2 separate regions of the Homo sapiens genome follow, and region 2 is linked to region 1. Evidence: fine-mapped expression QTL. Tissue or cell type: putamen. Region 1 holds a variant in brackets; the other region holds the start of a gene. All regions are shown on one strand. Distances are between the middles of the regions.

What was found. PIP is the estimated chance that this variant, and not a neighbour inherited with it, causes the effect.
Region 2: PKDCC starts here. The variant in region 1 is fine-mapped to the expression of PKDCC in putamen (GTEx, PIP 0.95).

What each region holds. Positions count from the first base shown.
Region 1 is chr2:42,173,641-42,181,744 of GRCh38, forward strand. The region is part of intron 1 of EML4 (EMAP like 4); the gene reads left to right. Among named protein-coding and RNA genes, the nearest start is that of EML4-AS1, 7.5 kb to the left of the region's middle. The variant T/C (reference allele first, on the strand shown) is at 3,920.
Region 2 is chr2:42,043,742-42,051,845 of GRCh38, forward strand. PKDCC (protein kinase domain containing, cytoplasmic) reads left to right here and starts at 4,280. Exons shown (of 7, transcript NM_138370.3): 1 at 4,280-5,097. The coding sequence starts at 4,459. RefSeq lists enhancers at 2,657-3,160, 3,161-3,665, 3,289-3,408, 4,909-5,168, 5,882-6,383 and silencers at 3,579-3,868, 3,979-4,228, 4,379-4,558, 4,569-4,668, 4,799-4,868.

The DNA.
Region 1 (8,104 bases):
TAGTTTGAGACCAGCCTGGGCAACATAGCAAGACCCTGTCTCTGCAAAAAAAACAAAAATAGGCATAGTGGCATGTGCCTGTAACCCCAGCTACTTGGGAGGCTGAGGCAGGAGGATCACTTGAGCACAGGAGTTGAAGGTTGCAGTGAGCTATGATTGTACCACTGCACTCCACTGGGCCACAGAGCAAACCTCTGCCTCTAAAAAATAAATAAATAAATAAAGTATGTACTGTATGTAGAGATGTTTATTATTAAGCCTAAGTACCAGAAATGGGGATGAAGGGAGGAAGCACCATTTAGAATGCTGTGCTATGTTTCAAGCAAGTAACTTCTGAGAGAACATTTGTTGATTGCTAGATTTATCTCTGCAGAGCTTGGCTTTTTAAAACAATGAAATAATTTAGCAGTTTAAATTCTAGGGAGTCTTTTTCTGTCTTATGTGTAAGTTGGAATAACATGTAGCAAAATACTGTATTTTGTATGTGGGAGTCCATTTCTGTAACATGTAAAACTTCAATATTCATAAGAAATTTTAGAAAAATATTTTGATTTTTAAAATAGATTCTAATACTTGTAAAAAGTTTAGGGAAAGAATCTACTTCATCTAGTATTACCTCAGTGTGGAAGATTCCCAAATCTATAGTATATTTCTTTGTGTGTGTGTGTCTGACGGAGTCTTGCTCTGTCTCCCAGGCTGGAGTACAATGGCACGATCTCAGCTCACTGCAACCTCTGCCTCCTGGGTTCAAGCGATTCTCCTGCCTCAGCCTCCTGAGTAGCTGGGATTACAGTTGTGTACCACCACACCTGGCTAATTTTTGTATTTTTAGTAGAGACAGGTTTTCACTATGTTGGCCAGGCTGGTCTCAAACCCCTGACCTCGGGTGATGGCCACGCACCTTGGCCTCCCAAAGTTCTGGGATTACAGGTGTGAGCCACTGTGCCTGACCCTGTAGTATATTTGTATGTCGGTATATGATCTCTTGTCCTTTAGCTGTCTTAGGCTTTTATAATACCTTAATTTTGCATGCTGTATATGATTTTTAAATATTATTTTAAAGCATTCCTTATTTACAGTTTACAAAGAGCTTTTATCTCATTTAATTTGCATACTAACCTTGGGAGATAAATTATTATACTTTTATAGGTGAAAAAGGTCTAGAAAGTGGTTTTTTTTTGTTTGTTTGTTTTTTGAGACAGAGTCTTGCTCTGTTGCCCAGGCTGGAGTGCAATGGCGCGATCTCGGCTCACTGCAGCCTCCGCCTCCCGGGTTTAGGCAGTTATCTGCCTCAGCCTCCCTAGTAGCTGGGATTACAGGTGCCCGCCAGCATGTCTGGCTAATTTTTGTATTTTTAGTAGAGACGGGGTTTCACCATCTTGGCCAGGCTGGTCTTGAACTCCTGACCTTGTGTGATCCACCCACCTTGGCCTCCCTTACAGGTGTGAGCCACCGTGCCTGGCCGTGTTTTTGTTTGTTTGTTTGTTTTTGAGACGGAGTCTTGCTCTATTGCCCAGGCTGGAGTGCAGTGGCACCATGTTGGCTCACTGCAGCCTCTGCCTCCCGTGTTCAAGCTATTCTCCTGCCTCAAGCCTCCCGAGTAGCTGGGACTACAGGCACTCACCACCACACCTGGCTAATTTTTTGTATTTTTAGTAGAGATGGGGTTTCACTGTGTTAGCCAGGATGGTTGTGATCGCCTGACCTTGTTATTCGCCTGCCTCGGCCTTCCAAAGTGCTGGCATTACAGACGTGAGCCACCGCACCTGGCCAAGAGTGTGTTATTTTTTTAAAAGGTTAAGTCCAGGTTTTTTCTTTTTTTGTATGGTTGGGAGTGTTTGTATCTATATTATTTTTATTTTATTTTATTTTGTTTTTTTGAGACAGAGTTTCTGTCGCCCAGGCTGGAGTACAGTGGCACAGTCTTGGCTCACTGCAACTTCTGCCTCCTGGATTCAAGCGATTCTTGTGCCTCAGCCTCCCGAGTAGCTGAGATGACAGGTGTGCACCACCGCACCCAGCTAATTTTTGTATTTTTAATAGAGAAGAGGTTTTGCCATATTGGCCAAGCTGGTCTTGAACTGCTGTCCTCAAGTGATCCATCCACCTCAGCCTCCCAAAGTGCTGGGATTAGAGGTGTGAGTCACCATGCCCAGCATCATATTATTTTTAAATAAAACACCATAGAAAGGAAAGAAGAATAGAAAAATAAATTATCTTTAGCCCATTTGTATGCAGCTGATGTTAACATGTTAATGTACTTGTTCTTAGTCTTTTCCTATGCTTAGTTTTTTAATAGTTAAAATCATACTGCAGACATAATTTTGCATTCTGTTTTTTTCGTTGGATCCTAACCTTTTTTTTTTTTTCCCACTTGAACTCAGATTTTTCTGATGGAGTCCAGTGGTCTTTTCTCTACTCCAATACTGACTCTTTATAACCCTCAGGTACATACCTGAATCTGAACTTCTCTCCTGAATCAGCTTCTTTTCCTTATTTCCCACTGACTGTATCACCCAGTTTGAAATTTCAGAATCATGTTTTGATTCTTTGCCATTTTTGCCTAGGGCATTAGAATCTCTTCTAAGACTTGTCAATTCTTGTCACCTTTTCTCATCCCTTTTCTTTTCCACCGCTATAGTTCAGGTACTTATTATTCGATGCGTGGATTATTGCATGGCGTCGAGAATCTCCACCTGTCCAGTTTATTTTGTACAGGGCCCTCAGATTTATCTTCCTAAAGCCATGCTTTGATTGTGCTATTCACCCTCTCAGATTGCTTCATTGCTTTAATGACTACATTCAAACATCTTAGCCTCTTAACATCTTCTCAAGTCCTCTGTCATCTCTTTCTACTGTCTTACCATGTTCTGACCAAAATGACCTATTTCTTATTCCTCACATTTTCATCTTTTCATCCTGATGACTATTCTCAGTACCCTTCAAGGCTCAACTCAAATATTATTTCCTTTCTAAAAATGTTTACTTCTTTTCATTCCCAGCCCAAAGTATTCTTCCGTGAACACTTGATAGGACCACTCTTGGGGTACTTATTGCAGAATGTTTATTCCAATAGTTATAAGGTGAAAGTAATTATTACAGATCTTACAATTGTTATGTCTTATTTCCCTGAGCCAAATTGGTTTTATTTTTATTTATTTATTTTTTTATGAGACAGAGTTTTGCTTTGTCGCCCAGGCTGGAGTGCAGTGGTATGATCTCAGCTCACTGCAACCTCTGCCTCCTGGGTTCAAGGAATTCTCCTGCCTCAGCCTTCCGACTAGGTGGTGTTACAGGTGTATGCCACCACACCCAGCTAATTTTTGTATTTTTAGTAGAGACGGGTTTCACCATGTTGGCCAGGCCTGTCTCAAACTCCTGACCTCAAGTGATCTGCCCGCTGAGGCCTCCCAGAGTGCTGGGGGATTGCAGGTACCATGCCTAAGCCAAATTATAAACCTCTTGAAGGCTGTATTGAAGGTTTTATTGAAGGCTGAAACTCTCATGTGTCTTTGAAGTCTTGCAGTGGAGATTTCATGATCCAGTAAAATGTGGAGGAAATAAATTAGGGACTAGTATATAGTTGACAACTTAACAACCTTCACTTTCATACCTCTTTTTTTTTTTAAAGAAATGACATTTGAAGACCAAAAGATTGTAATACACAATCTCAGAATAAAAAATTGTAAAATTACTTTGAAAATTAAATATGGCTCACGCCTGTAATCCCAACAGTTTGGGAGGCTGAGGCGGGCGGCTCACTTGAGCTCAGGAGTTTGAGACCAGCCTGGGCAACATGGTGAGAACCCGTCTCTACCAAAAGTACAAAAAAATTAGCCAGGCATGGTGGTGCACGCCTGTGGTCCCAGATACTCGAGAGGCTGAGGTGGGAGGATTGCTGGAGCCTGGGAGGTGGAGG[T/C]TGCAGTGAGCGCAGATCACACTACTGGGCTCCAACCTGGGTGACACAGCGAGACCCCGTCTCAAACAAGCAAACAGACAAACAAAAACTCATTATGTTCTTATTTCTCATTTCACCTGAAATAAGTGAAATGTTCTAGACTTTATTGGGAATCTGATAAAGAATTCTGTGCCAGATTCTAGGGTATTTTCAAGTACAAGTCATGTGCATGACCTGTTAATGGTTTTTGAAATCAGTTTAGTCGTGGTCAGGACCAACATTAGAAAAATGAGGAGAAGAGGAAGAGATAATGTAAAATATCAGTACTTCGTGTGATATTGCTTCATGGAACATTTAATTTCAGTTACATATATTTGTCTTAGATTTCAGTGTAAAATTTCTGTTGGTCACAATCAGATGAAAGATACATTTTTAGTGGCTAATCCCTATCTTTGAGAGAATAGGTGGAAAGGTTGACATACATGAAAAGGTGGATGAACAATCAGAAGTAATCATTGCGGGCTATGTCTTTGACAAGTTTTTAGAATCTGAATATAATTAGAATATGTTTAACAGCAGCAGCAGCAGAAAGATATTTATTAGTTGTAGAATCAGTGTAATTCAGGCAAACTCAGTATGTAAAGAAGTGATTTTATAAAATTGGTAGGGCTAGGGTATGTTTACCTTGCAAATCAATTCTTTACTTTGAAAGAGAATTTTCAGGCCAGGTGGTATAGCTCACACCTATAATCCTAGCACTTTGGGAGGCCAGGGTAGGAATATCACTTGAGGCCTGGAGTTCAAGACCAGTCTGGGCAACATAGTGAGACCCTGTCTCTACCAAAAAAAAAAAACAAACAAAAATTAGCTGAACGTGGTGGTGCATGCCCAGCTCCTTGAGAGGCTGAGGTGAGAGGATCGCTTGAGCCCAGGAGGTGGAGGCTGCAGTGAGCTATGATATGCCACTGCACTCCAGCCTGGGCAGCAGAGCGAGCAGCGAGACCCTGTCTCAAATAAGAAAGAGGATTTTCCTTGTTTGTAGTGTGGTGAGTATCCCCCGTGTGGTGCCTGTCACGTGAGAGATCCCTGGGAGCCAAAAACAACAACTGCAAAAAAGAGGATTTACCATATTGCTGTATTTTATTTTTAAGCTGATCTGATGGAGTTGTCTGTGTCTTGACTGGTTCCCCACTTATTTGCTGAAATACATTTTTTCCCCAGGAAGCTGTCCCTGATTGGTACACTCAAACCATTGCACTATAGCGCTTCTAAAGTGGAGGGGGCTGAGCACTTACACCTAAGGGATCTGGGAGTGTAGGCAAAAGTTGAAATCTATTTAACTTTAAAATTTATATGATTGTTTTGCATCCATTATAATAAAGATTTGTTTAGACAGGAATCATCAATAGGTGCTAAATCTAGGGGGATATTTTGGTGAGAAGCAGGTTGTCTGCATGGTCTTAAATTTCCCCCCATATAATGCTTATTACTTGTAAGGGGGGGAAACAGTAACTCAATATGGTGGTGAAATCAGACAACACCTTGTGTGCATGATCAAAATAAATATCACCAATGGATTTGTGTGTCTCTGCATGTGATACCCAGAAAAGAGCACATCAGTTACAGTGTTTTTCAGCCATGAATTCATAGCCTGAATCTAATCATGAGGAAATTTTAAACTCCAGATGGGGAACATCCTATTTTTTAAAACGTCGGGGAGCTGGGTTTTTTTTTTTTTTTTAATATTATAAAGACAAAGTCTGTGGAAACATTCCAGACTAAAGAAGACTTAAGAGATGTGGTAACTAAATGAACTACCTGATTTTAGACTGGATCTTGTATAGAGGGGAAAATACAATAAAGGATATTATTGGATCACTTGGCAAAATTGGCATGTGGATGGTGGTAAGTATTGCATTAATGTTTATTGAACTTGGTAACTGTCTTCAGGTTATGTAAGAGAATATTTTTATTCTTAGGAAATACATACCCAAGTTTTTATGGAGAATGGTCCATGATGTTTATAGCTTATGGTTTAGGAAACAAAGGTAATACATATATGGGGGTTTTTTGTTTTGTTTTGAGATGGGGTCTCGCTCTGTCGCCCAGGCTGGGGTGCGGTGGCATGATCTTGGCTCACTGCACCCTCTGCCTCCCGGGTTCAAGCGATTATCCTGCCTCAGCCTCCCGAGTAACTGGGATTACAGGCACATGCCACCATGCCCGGCTAGTTTTGTATTTTTAGTAGAGATGGAGTTTCACTATGTTGGTCAGGCTGATCTGGAACTCTTGACCCCAAGTGATCCACCCACCTAGCCTCCCAAAGTGCTGGGATTACAGGCATGAGCCACCACACCCGGCCATATGTGTTTTATATATACACACAGATACGTGTACATATAGAGGGAGGGAGGGACAGAGCATGCATATGTGCATGTGTGTAAATAAAGCCAACGGGTAAGATGTTAATAATAGGTTAATTTGGTGAAAGCTATGTGGATATTCTTGGTACTGTTTTTGTTCTTACAGCTTTTCTGTGAGTTTGGAATCATTTTCAAATGAAAAGTTTAAAAAAATTGTATGAACTTTGCATTATACTTCATAGTATGGCATTAAAAAAAATTGGAACTATCCTGTCTTCCAGAAAATTCCAGGCAAACCCTTGAGATAAAACTGCGGCTCCAAGAATATGTTCCGTGTATGTATCATGTGGCTTCCTTTTATCCCTAAGCCTCAGTTTGAGAAACATGTCTCTGGACCAGAGGTAGCTGTGGTTCAGATTTAGCCAACAGACATATTTTGTTTGGCCCTTTTGAGTGTTTTAAAAATAGGGAGATTTCACATAACAATGTGGATGTTTGGTTTCTATTGAAAAATAGGGTGATCTTGCCACTCTGGACTTGCATTCCATTCCAGATGGTCTGTATATGTGCTAAGTGGTGTGCCAGGTGCCCTCAGTCCCTACCTTACATGCAGCTTGTTTTAGTCATTTCTTTCCTGGCCTCTATAGACCTGTCTTTGCAACCTTTACCTAGCCCAAGAGGTGATGAAAGTGCCTGTCTTCTTTACACTATAACAATTTGAGAATTAAATTGCTAAATGGATGCCCTATCACCCTCTAACATTTTAGTGTTTATTTCCTGTAAGTAAGGCTTTCTCCTACACAACCATATTACAACCAACAGAATCAGGAAATGTTGATACATTACTAATTCTCAGACCCATTCTAGTTTCACTAATTGTCTCAATAATGTCTTTTATAGCAAAAAGATCTAGTTCACAATTACATGTTGAATTTAGTTTTCATGTCTCTTTAGTCTCTTTGATATGGAACAGTTCCTTAGTCTTCCTTGGGTTTTGTCACCTTGACACTTTGGAAAGTTGCCCTCCAGTTGTTTTGTAGACTGTCCCTAAATTTGATGTTTCATCCTGATTAGATTCAAATTATGCAATTTTGGGAGAAATGCCACAGAAGTGAAGCTGTGTTTGTCTCATTGCATCCTATTAGGTGGCACACAATTTTTATTTATCCCATTACTGATGATGTCCATTCTGATCACTTGGTGTCTGCTAGACTTGCCCACAATTTTACAATTTTAGTAATTGCAAAATTATTTTTCTTGTTTTACTTGTTTTAGCTGGTAGTTGATAGCTATTTTGTAAAATGTGCTTTGAAACTATGTAAATATTCAGTTCTTCATCAGACCTTCAGTTTATTGGTTTATATCTGTATGGACTCAGGTTTCTTATTTTTTTATTTTTATTTTATTTTGTATTTGAGACAGGGTCTCACTCTATTGCCCAGACTGGAGTGCAGTGGTGCGATCACGGCTCACCGCATCCTCCACCTCCCGGACTCAAGCGATTCTCCTGCCTCAGCCTCCTGAGTAGCTGGGTTTACAGGCACACGCCACTAACACTTGGCTAATTTTTGTATTTTTCGTAGGGATGGGGTTTCACCATGTTGGCCTGGCTGGTCTCAAACTCCTGACCTCAAATGACCTACCTCAGCCTCCCAAAGTGCTGGGATTACAGGTGTGAGCCACCGCGCCTGGCCAGGTTTCATATTTTTTTGATGGGTTATAGTCCATTACTATTTATTTTGATGCTTAAATTGACCCTGTTTTGGCAAGTAGATACCCCTCTAAACTGTCTTCTTTGTTCTTTTGCCACGTTCTCATCATTCTTTGAAGACTTTCTTGTTTT
Region 2 (8,104 bases), 130 kb before region 1:
AAAAAAAAAGAAAAAGAAAAAAAGAAAAGAAAAACAAAAGAAAGTAGTTCAACCCTGTAATTCCAACACTTTGGGAGGATGAGGTAGGATTGCTTGAGCCCAGGAGTTCAAGAACAGCCTCCACAACATAGTGAGATCCTGTCTCTACAAAAAAATACAAAAATTAGCTGGGCATAGTGGCTCACACCTATAGTCCTAGCTACTTGGGAGGCTGAGGTGGGAGAATCACTTGAGCCTGGGAGGTGGAGGTTGTAGTGAGCCGAGATCGGGCCACTGCATTCCAGACTGGGCAACAGAGCAAGACCCAAGACCCTATCAGAAAAGAAAAGAAAAAAGAAAAGAAACGAAAAGAAAAGAAAAGAAGGAAGGAGAGAGAGGAGGGAAGGAAGGAGGGAGGGAGGGAGGGAAGGAGGGAGTGAGGGAAGGAAGGAAGGAAGAAAGAAAGAAAGAAAGAAAGAGACAGAGAGAGAGGAAGGAAGGAAGGAAGGGGAAGAAAGAAAGAAGAAAAGAGAGGTTCAAGTTATTTCTGCCCCCTGGCAGAGTTATACCCAACCAAGTTGTATAAGATGTTGTCACAGATGTTTGTTTGTTTGAAATTTGTGTAAATACTAGGTCACTCAGTTAATGAGATTGAATCCCTGATTCCAAATCCCAAGCTCTTTACATCAAGTTTTCCAAGACCTGAGAAATGTATTATGTACATTTCCTTTCTCCACAAAACTCTAAGAATAGACACTCAATATCCCAAGGACCTTCTGCAACACGACCCCAGTTGCAGAAGCATTATCTCTACCTCAACACTTTCTGGGAGGCCTTGAAGGACCACTTGGCAAAGATTAAGCGGAAAGGCTAGAAGATGGTATTTCAGGAAGAGGAACTGGGAGAGAGGGCACTGATGGGAAAACGCAGATGATGGCTGGGGCAGGAGCTGGTGCAGGAGGAGTCTGACTTTGTGTGGAGGAATGGAAAGGGGAACACAGGCTTAGGTGGGGGGCTGGGGCCAGCTCATGGAGGCCTGAAGGCCAGTTCAGCTTATCCTCCAGGTTTTTGAGTAGGACAGTAATACTCCAAAAGAGGTGTCTGAGCCTTGGCCTGCAGAGAAAAAGATGGACAATAAAGAAGGCAGATGGGAGGCTAGAATAACCCTTCAGACAGTCTAGGATGATGTGACAGAAACATGCAGAAAGAAGGTATTTAAAAGACACCTTAAAGAAAATTTAGCATTTTGGAGTCTGGGCCATCTGCCCTCTTCCCAAGGATTAATATCCAAGTAAGTGTTTTGAGTGGGGTAGGAGCATGGCAGAAAGATAGAGGGAGCAAGAAAGCATAGAGCATTGGACGTACTGAGCCTTCCAGACCTTGCACAGACACTGTGGTCTGAGGGCTGCCAGAAGCCCTGGGGGAGACAGGGAGGACTGCCAGCTGATGGCTCCTGTATGAAGATGGCACTGAGGGCTCTGAGCTGGACACTGGCCTGCAGACTCTGGCCTGTGAGGCCCAGGCTATGGGCTCCACCTGGTCTTTGAGTGGGTGGGCAGACTGCAGATCAGGGGCCTGCAGCAGCATTTCATGTATTTCAATTCTTTGAAATGATTCCTCTCCCTGGGTGGCAGAAAGGAAAAAAAAAAAAAAAAGCAAACAAGCAAAATATAGTTAAGAACTCAAGAACTGCCAATTCAGAAACTCTAATCTGCTCAAAAAGTTCAATCCCTTTCTTTCAGAAGCCAAAAACCCATTTCCATCTCAGATTGTATATGTCTGTGTCTGAGAGCTGGTGAGGGAGACAGTGAGTATGCGAGGGAGGCCACTGAGATGCCTTTGTTCCTGTGTGTGAGCTACTGCTCTGAACTGCTCCGTGGACCTGTGTGTGTTGCACGCACATTTGTGCCTGTTTCTCAGGCCCCTGTGTGCCTTGAACTTTCAAACCATAACAGAAACACTGAAGCTTGGCAAAGATATCACAGGAATAATTATCTAATTTCAGAACATGTTATTATAATACCTACATGATGTGTAACAAACTTAACAATGTTCATGTTATATTCACCTACTCTGAGCTGTAGACTCACAACGCCAAGTTTTACCCTCAGAAGTTTCTCCAAAACACAAGGGCAGAGCAAGCCCCAAAGAAAGTTCTTCAGGGAATATTCCCCCACAACAGCTCCCTCACGGATTGAGACGTTTGGCTGGGTAGATGTCTATGGGGAAATTGCTGGAAGGAGGACAGAGCCTATCTTGGGATGGCAACTGTTCCTCCCAAAATCCTCATTCCTCCCCAGAAAAGAAGACATGGAACTGATAAGGAACTAGCAGCCATATTGGGGTGACACAGGCAGACAGGCTTTTCCTGATTCAGCTGTGGGCCGGGGGGGGCCTCCTAATCCACCCAGCTCCCCGTTTTCCCCAGGGGTCTGAATTGGACCAAGGCTGAGTGTGAGGGGAATGGTTTGCTGTTTGCTGCTGTTCCCTGTTGACTTTAGCCAGTAGCTCTGTTTACAAACCCAGGTTGGTTTTCCCAGCACAGTTAATTAGACCAAAGACATCTGGTGCAAGGCTGCGGAGAGGGCATCTGCTCAGAGCCTTCCCCCTACACCCTGCAGACTGCAGCCACGGCCCAGAGTGGGGCAGAACAGCTCTATCGGTACAGACCTGACTCCACCAGACCCAGTGTTCTCGGAGGAATCATGGCTTCCTTCACCCTGCCTTTCCATGCTTGCCAAGTCGGACTGGGCCCCAACTCCCCAAGCCATAGAGAACAAGGAGTCCGGGCTGGAAGGCCCACCTCAGTGGGATCATAGGCTGGAGATCAGGGACTCAGCTCTCTCCTCGGTCCTTCCATGTCCAAAGGAACAGGGCAGAAATTCCTGTCCCTTTCTCATCACAGACACTGCATTCTGTAGGAACGCCAGACCTCTTCAGGGAAAATCTCCCCTCCCTGGATACCCCCCCACCCACCCCCACCCCCAGAAAAAAGGCTGTGGACCCTTCTCCTCCCTGACCCCTCCCCAGCCAATCCCTGACACTGTGAGGAGGACAGAGATTAACCTGGCCCAGAGGGAGGCAGGAAGCTGCCCAGGAAGGTGAGAGGATCTAGGTGGGCAGTTTCAGAGTGGCGGGGAAGAGGAGAGCTGCGAGGGGGAGGGGCAGCGGCTTATCTCTCCCAGGAGGGGGGAGCTCACTCCAAACAGCTAGTGCACTGGCGTGTGAAAGCCCCTCAATTAGCACTAATGATGCAATCAGGGAGGGAGGAGGAGGGACCGAAGTTCTGGTGGCGTCAGCACCAACTTACACACAAGGTACACATTCCCTTCATCGGACACAATGGCCCCTTCAGACACGCCGAGGCACACACTCCACAGACAGCCGTCCGTGGGCACAAACGCACTCTTTGCCCAAGCTACTAGCATGCACATGGTTTCTTATACGCGGCTGACCCCGTCAGACCCCAGGCATCTTGAGGGGTAGGGAGCGACCCCCAGCTGCATTTGGGGCTTTAGAGGCAAGGAAAATCAGAAACACTTTGGTAAAAGGAGTTGAACAGGGCATCCTCGGCGAGCTCACGAGCATTCCTCTATGCCTAGAGCTCCTGTCCCACGCGCGCTCGCAGGTGCTGGCCCGGCTGTGCCCGCTTCCCCCTCACCATCGCCCCAATCCGGAATCCGGGGCTGAGCGAGGAGCCGCCACCCCCGGCCCCACCCGCGAGAGACGGGGTCCACGCGCCTTCCCTGCGCCCAAACCGCCCCGAGGCCCCCAGTCCCAGGAGGGAGCGCTGAGATCACTCGGATCTCCGCACCCCGGACTTAGCTGCTCGTCCCCTCCGGAGCCCGCTACCCGCCGGCCTCGCCCCTTTATCTTTCCCCCACTCCGCCCGGCCGGCTCCGTTATCCACCTCCCAATCCCGTTATCCGGCCGCCCCGGCCCCGTTATCCGCCCTCGCGTTGGGCGCGGAGCCCCCGCGCGCCTCCTGGCCGCCGCCGCCCCCTCCCCCGCTCCCAGACGGAGCTCGGGGGACCGCGGGCTGGGCGGGACCGCGGGCTGGGCAGGACCGGAGCCGCCTCCGCGCCGCTTCCCAGGCCCGGACGGCCGCGGGAGGAGGTCCCGCTGTCAGTCAGCGGGGAAGGCCGGGCCGGGCGGCCGGAGGGGGCGGCGCCGAGGACGGGCTCGGGCCGGGAGCTGGGAGGTGGAGGCGGAGGGGCGGGGGAGGGGGCGGGGGAGGGGGCGGGGGCGGGGGCGGGGGGCGGCTCTGGGCCTTATAAGCGGCGGGGGCAGGGCGGCAGGGAGGCAAGTGTCAGGCCGATGTGTCGCCCGCGAGGGGCCGGGGTCGGGGCCGCCGGGGCCATGCGCGCGGGCTGGGCAGGGGGCCGGCGGGGCGCAGAGCGGAGCCGCCTCGGAGCCTGAGCCGCCCGGGGCCGGGGCCGGGGAGCCGCGCGGGGCCGGCCGGCCGGGGGGAGGGGAGCGATGCGGCGCCGGCGGGCGGCAGTGGCCGCGGGTTTCTGCGCCTCCTTCCTGCTGGGCTCCGTCCTCAACGTGCTCTTCGCTCCGGGCTCGGAGCCTCCGAGGCCAGGCCAGTCCCCTGAGCCTTCGCCGGCCCCGGGTCCGGGCCGTCGCGGGGGCCGCGGGGAGCTGGCCCGGCAGATCCGGGCGCGCTACGAGGAGGTGCAGCGCTATTCCCGCGGGGGCCCCGGGCCCGGGGCGGGCCGGCCGGAGCGGCGGCGCCTGATGGACCTGGCTCCGGGCGGGCCCGGCCTGCCGCGCCCCCGGCCCCCTTGGGCCCGGCCCCTGTCCGACGGCGCCCCAGGCTGGCCCCCGGCTCCCGGCCCAGGCTCCCCCGGCCCGGGCCCGCGCCTGGGCTGCGCCGCGCTTCGCAACGTGTCCGGCGCGCAGTACATGGGCTCAGGCTACACCAAGGCCGTGTACCGGGTCCGCCTGCCCGGCGGTGCCGCGGTGGCGCTCAAGGCGGTGGACTTTAGCGGCCACGATCTGGGCAGCTGCGTGCGCGAGTTCGGGGTACGGAGGGGCTGCTATCGGCTGGCGGCCCACAAGCTGCTTAAGGAGATGGTGCTGCTGGAGCGGCTGCGGCACCCCAACGTGCTGCAGGTACGAGGGTGGGGACGCGGGGGTAACGGTGTTGGCTGGGAGTGCCCAAGACCTTGTCAACCTGGCTGGAAGAGAACCCCTTGATCTGGAGTGCCAGTGACTGCACCCAGGCTAAGCTAGACGCAGAAACCGGACCATGGCCCTTCCCACTGCACCACCCTGCTTCTCACTCCTGGGTGGGCGTCCCTTTACCGGAGAACTCCTGGGTTTCTCGGCTTCCACACATCTCTTAAAGACAGGCCAGGACAGAGGCTCCCAAAACTCAGGGGGTGGGGCAGTCCATTAGGATTTAGGACTCTACTCCGGGCTGGAGTTAGGAGGTTGAACACCAGGGATATTACCCCAAGCCAAAATGACCCTAAGCCAAGACACTTGAGTCAGAATTCCAACTGTGTGATAAAGTCCCCCTTCTTGATGGAACTTCTCCCAACTTCCAGTGATTTGTCTGGTTTTGAAAATGAGACGGGACAGCAGTGGGGCTGGGAAGAGCTGGAAAGAGACCATGTGTCAGGCTTGATTCCTATAGAGTCTCCCCACCCACCCACCTCCAGCGCCACCCAGAAGACACTGGAAGGGGGCTGGGGAGCAGGCTAGAAAAAGGGAACACAGTCCTTCCCAGAAGTGAACTAAGGGTTCCCCAGGCCTTAAAGTGGGTCCTTGAGCCCCTGGAGAAGCCTGAAGGTCTCAGCTCAGTGGACAGACTGGCGGCCTGAGGATCTAAATGTCACACTGTCTGAGTGTATATAGATAGCCAAGAGGCTGGAAGGTTGAGAAGGCCAAATGCTCAGGTTCCTACTCAACGGGACTCTGCCTCGCCTGTTCACTGGAGACACAGGCGAGAGCTGAAACCCCCACCTTGTCCCCTCCAAGCTAGACTTTGAGTGGGCCTCTCACAGTCCCAGCACCGCCCTAACACTCCACGTCCTCTCTCTCAGGTCTCCCCCCATCCTAAGATTAGACAGACTATTCCCTTTGCACATGTCTGAGCAAACAGAGGGGAATCCCTGACCGCTGTTGGCCCGGTGAACATGGGTGTGTGCAGCCTCCCCAACGGATGAAATCTTGCACACACCTTCCACCTACCAGCCCACTCAAACTAACCTTTCTGCACCCAGCAGAAATGACTGGAAACCCAGGAGTCCCTCTCTCCTTTCCTTAGGAGTGAGATGGCACCCCAGCCCTGGAGGGAGATGGGTGGGCGTCGTAGAGCAGGAGAGACTGGCCCAAAAGTTGTTTATACTCCTGTTGGCTCCCAGTCTCCCCCTCCCCCATCGTATTCCCCAACCCTGGTCAGACACTTGTGACCGGGCCCTGGGCCCCAAACTGGTCTCAGGAGCTCGGGCAGAACCAACACTTGCGTGTAGTGAAGCCTGGCTGCACAGCTCACACCGTGTCTGCAGCTTCAGGGAGTGAGCCCCTGGTTACGTGGCCATTCTAACTGGGAGGATCTTGTACTCTTTCCTTCCCAGGGACTTTTGGGAACTTTTTGGAAACTCTAGGGTGTCAGCCAGATCCTGAGGGAGTGGAGAGGTCTTGAGTGACTTAGCAGGACATAAAGTCTTAGTTACTTGACTCAAGACCCCTCTCCCTTCAGACGGGTTTGATGTTTGATGTGCTTTCCTATCTTTTAAGAAACTTGTCCCTCACTCTTCCCGCCAGCTCAAACTTCCTGACAAGCATTCAGCTAACGCCCCACATATATATCACGTGACGGTCCTCCTCTGAAATGTCAGGCCCCCAGCCCAATTCTGAAGGCACCAAAGAAAAAATTACAACAGAATAGTTTTCACCCTTCCCTCACCAAACCAAGACCAGGGTTGTCTGGGGTTAGCTGTGTGACTCTTTATTGTAGAGTCCCAGACGAGAGTTAGTGGCCCCAGGGCACAAGGGTTGCTAAGGGAGAGAGGGTCACAGGTCCTTTCTACCCAGGAAAAGTGAAAAGTGGGGGGCCCTTTAGTGTGAGTTTAGGGACTGCTTTGATGGTGGCTCTCCCCCATTCATCTTCTGACCATCAGGCCAGTGTCGCTCTGGCCTCCTAAACACGGCCATCTTTGCTGGCAGGGAAGCCTACAGTGGGGTCTTCCTGCCCAGGAGGCTTCAGGGCAGGTGTACAGGGAACTAGAAATAATGCTGCTTTAATACCTCTGAGTTATTTAAAATTTCAAAACCATTTGACTGTTTGCTGAACTGGGGAGGAGTTAGAGAACATTTCTAGAGTTCCTAGTGGTGCAGGCTCACCACCCTCCCTCTCTGAGCAGCCCAGAATTGGTGCTGTGGATTCTAATAGAAAATGCCCAGGCTAGCAGGCCCCATTCTGCACCTCCCAGGGCTTTCTCTGGTCATGGGGATTGCCTGGGCGAGATCTTTCTATCCATTTTCTTTGACCCCTCCCCATCCCGCCCCTGACACACGCATACACACTCCCTCACGTGACTTGACTCCTCTATAGCCCAGGGCCAAAGGGCACAAGGGTCTCCCCTCCCCTCAACCTCTCCCCACCTCCCCCTCCCCCAGTCATCCTGGGGCCCCCAGGCCTTGGATGGGCCCCCAGGCCTGCCTGGGCCCAGATTCTGGCCCTGCTAGAGTATATTTCTTCTCCCAACCAAACAAAAGATGTGACTGAAATGCTCAGCCTCACGCTTCCTGGGGGGGGTTAATGGTGTCTTTTTATTTTTTCCTGAGGGGTGTTGATTAATACCTCGTTAACAGCGCATTTAACGACCTCCGGGTGTTTAATAACCTTCAGAAGTTTCCCACAAAGGCTCAGACTCTGGGCAAGAAAATGAGAACCAGGCCCCAGGGCTGTTCCCCTTACCTTCCCCCCACCCCACCAGGGTCTGGGGCTTCCCTGGACTGATGGGGAGGGGGTGGAGAGAGAAGAGGGTGCCTGGAGCTGCCCTGGCCCCCCAAGTCACAGCCCAAGAGTGAGGCCTTCCCCCATGCCAGCAGGATGACGGGGAGCTGAGGGGGCACTCCTAGGGCGGGAAGAGGACATGTGAGGACCTGG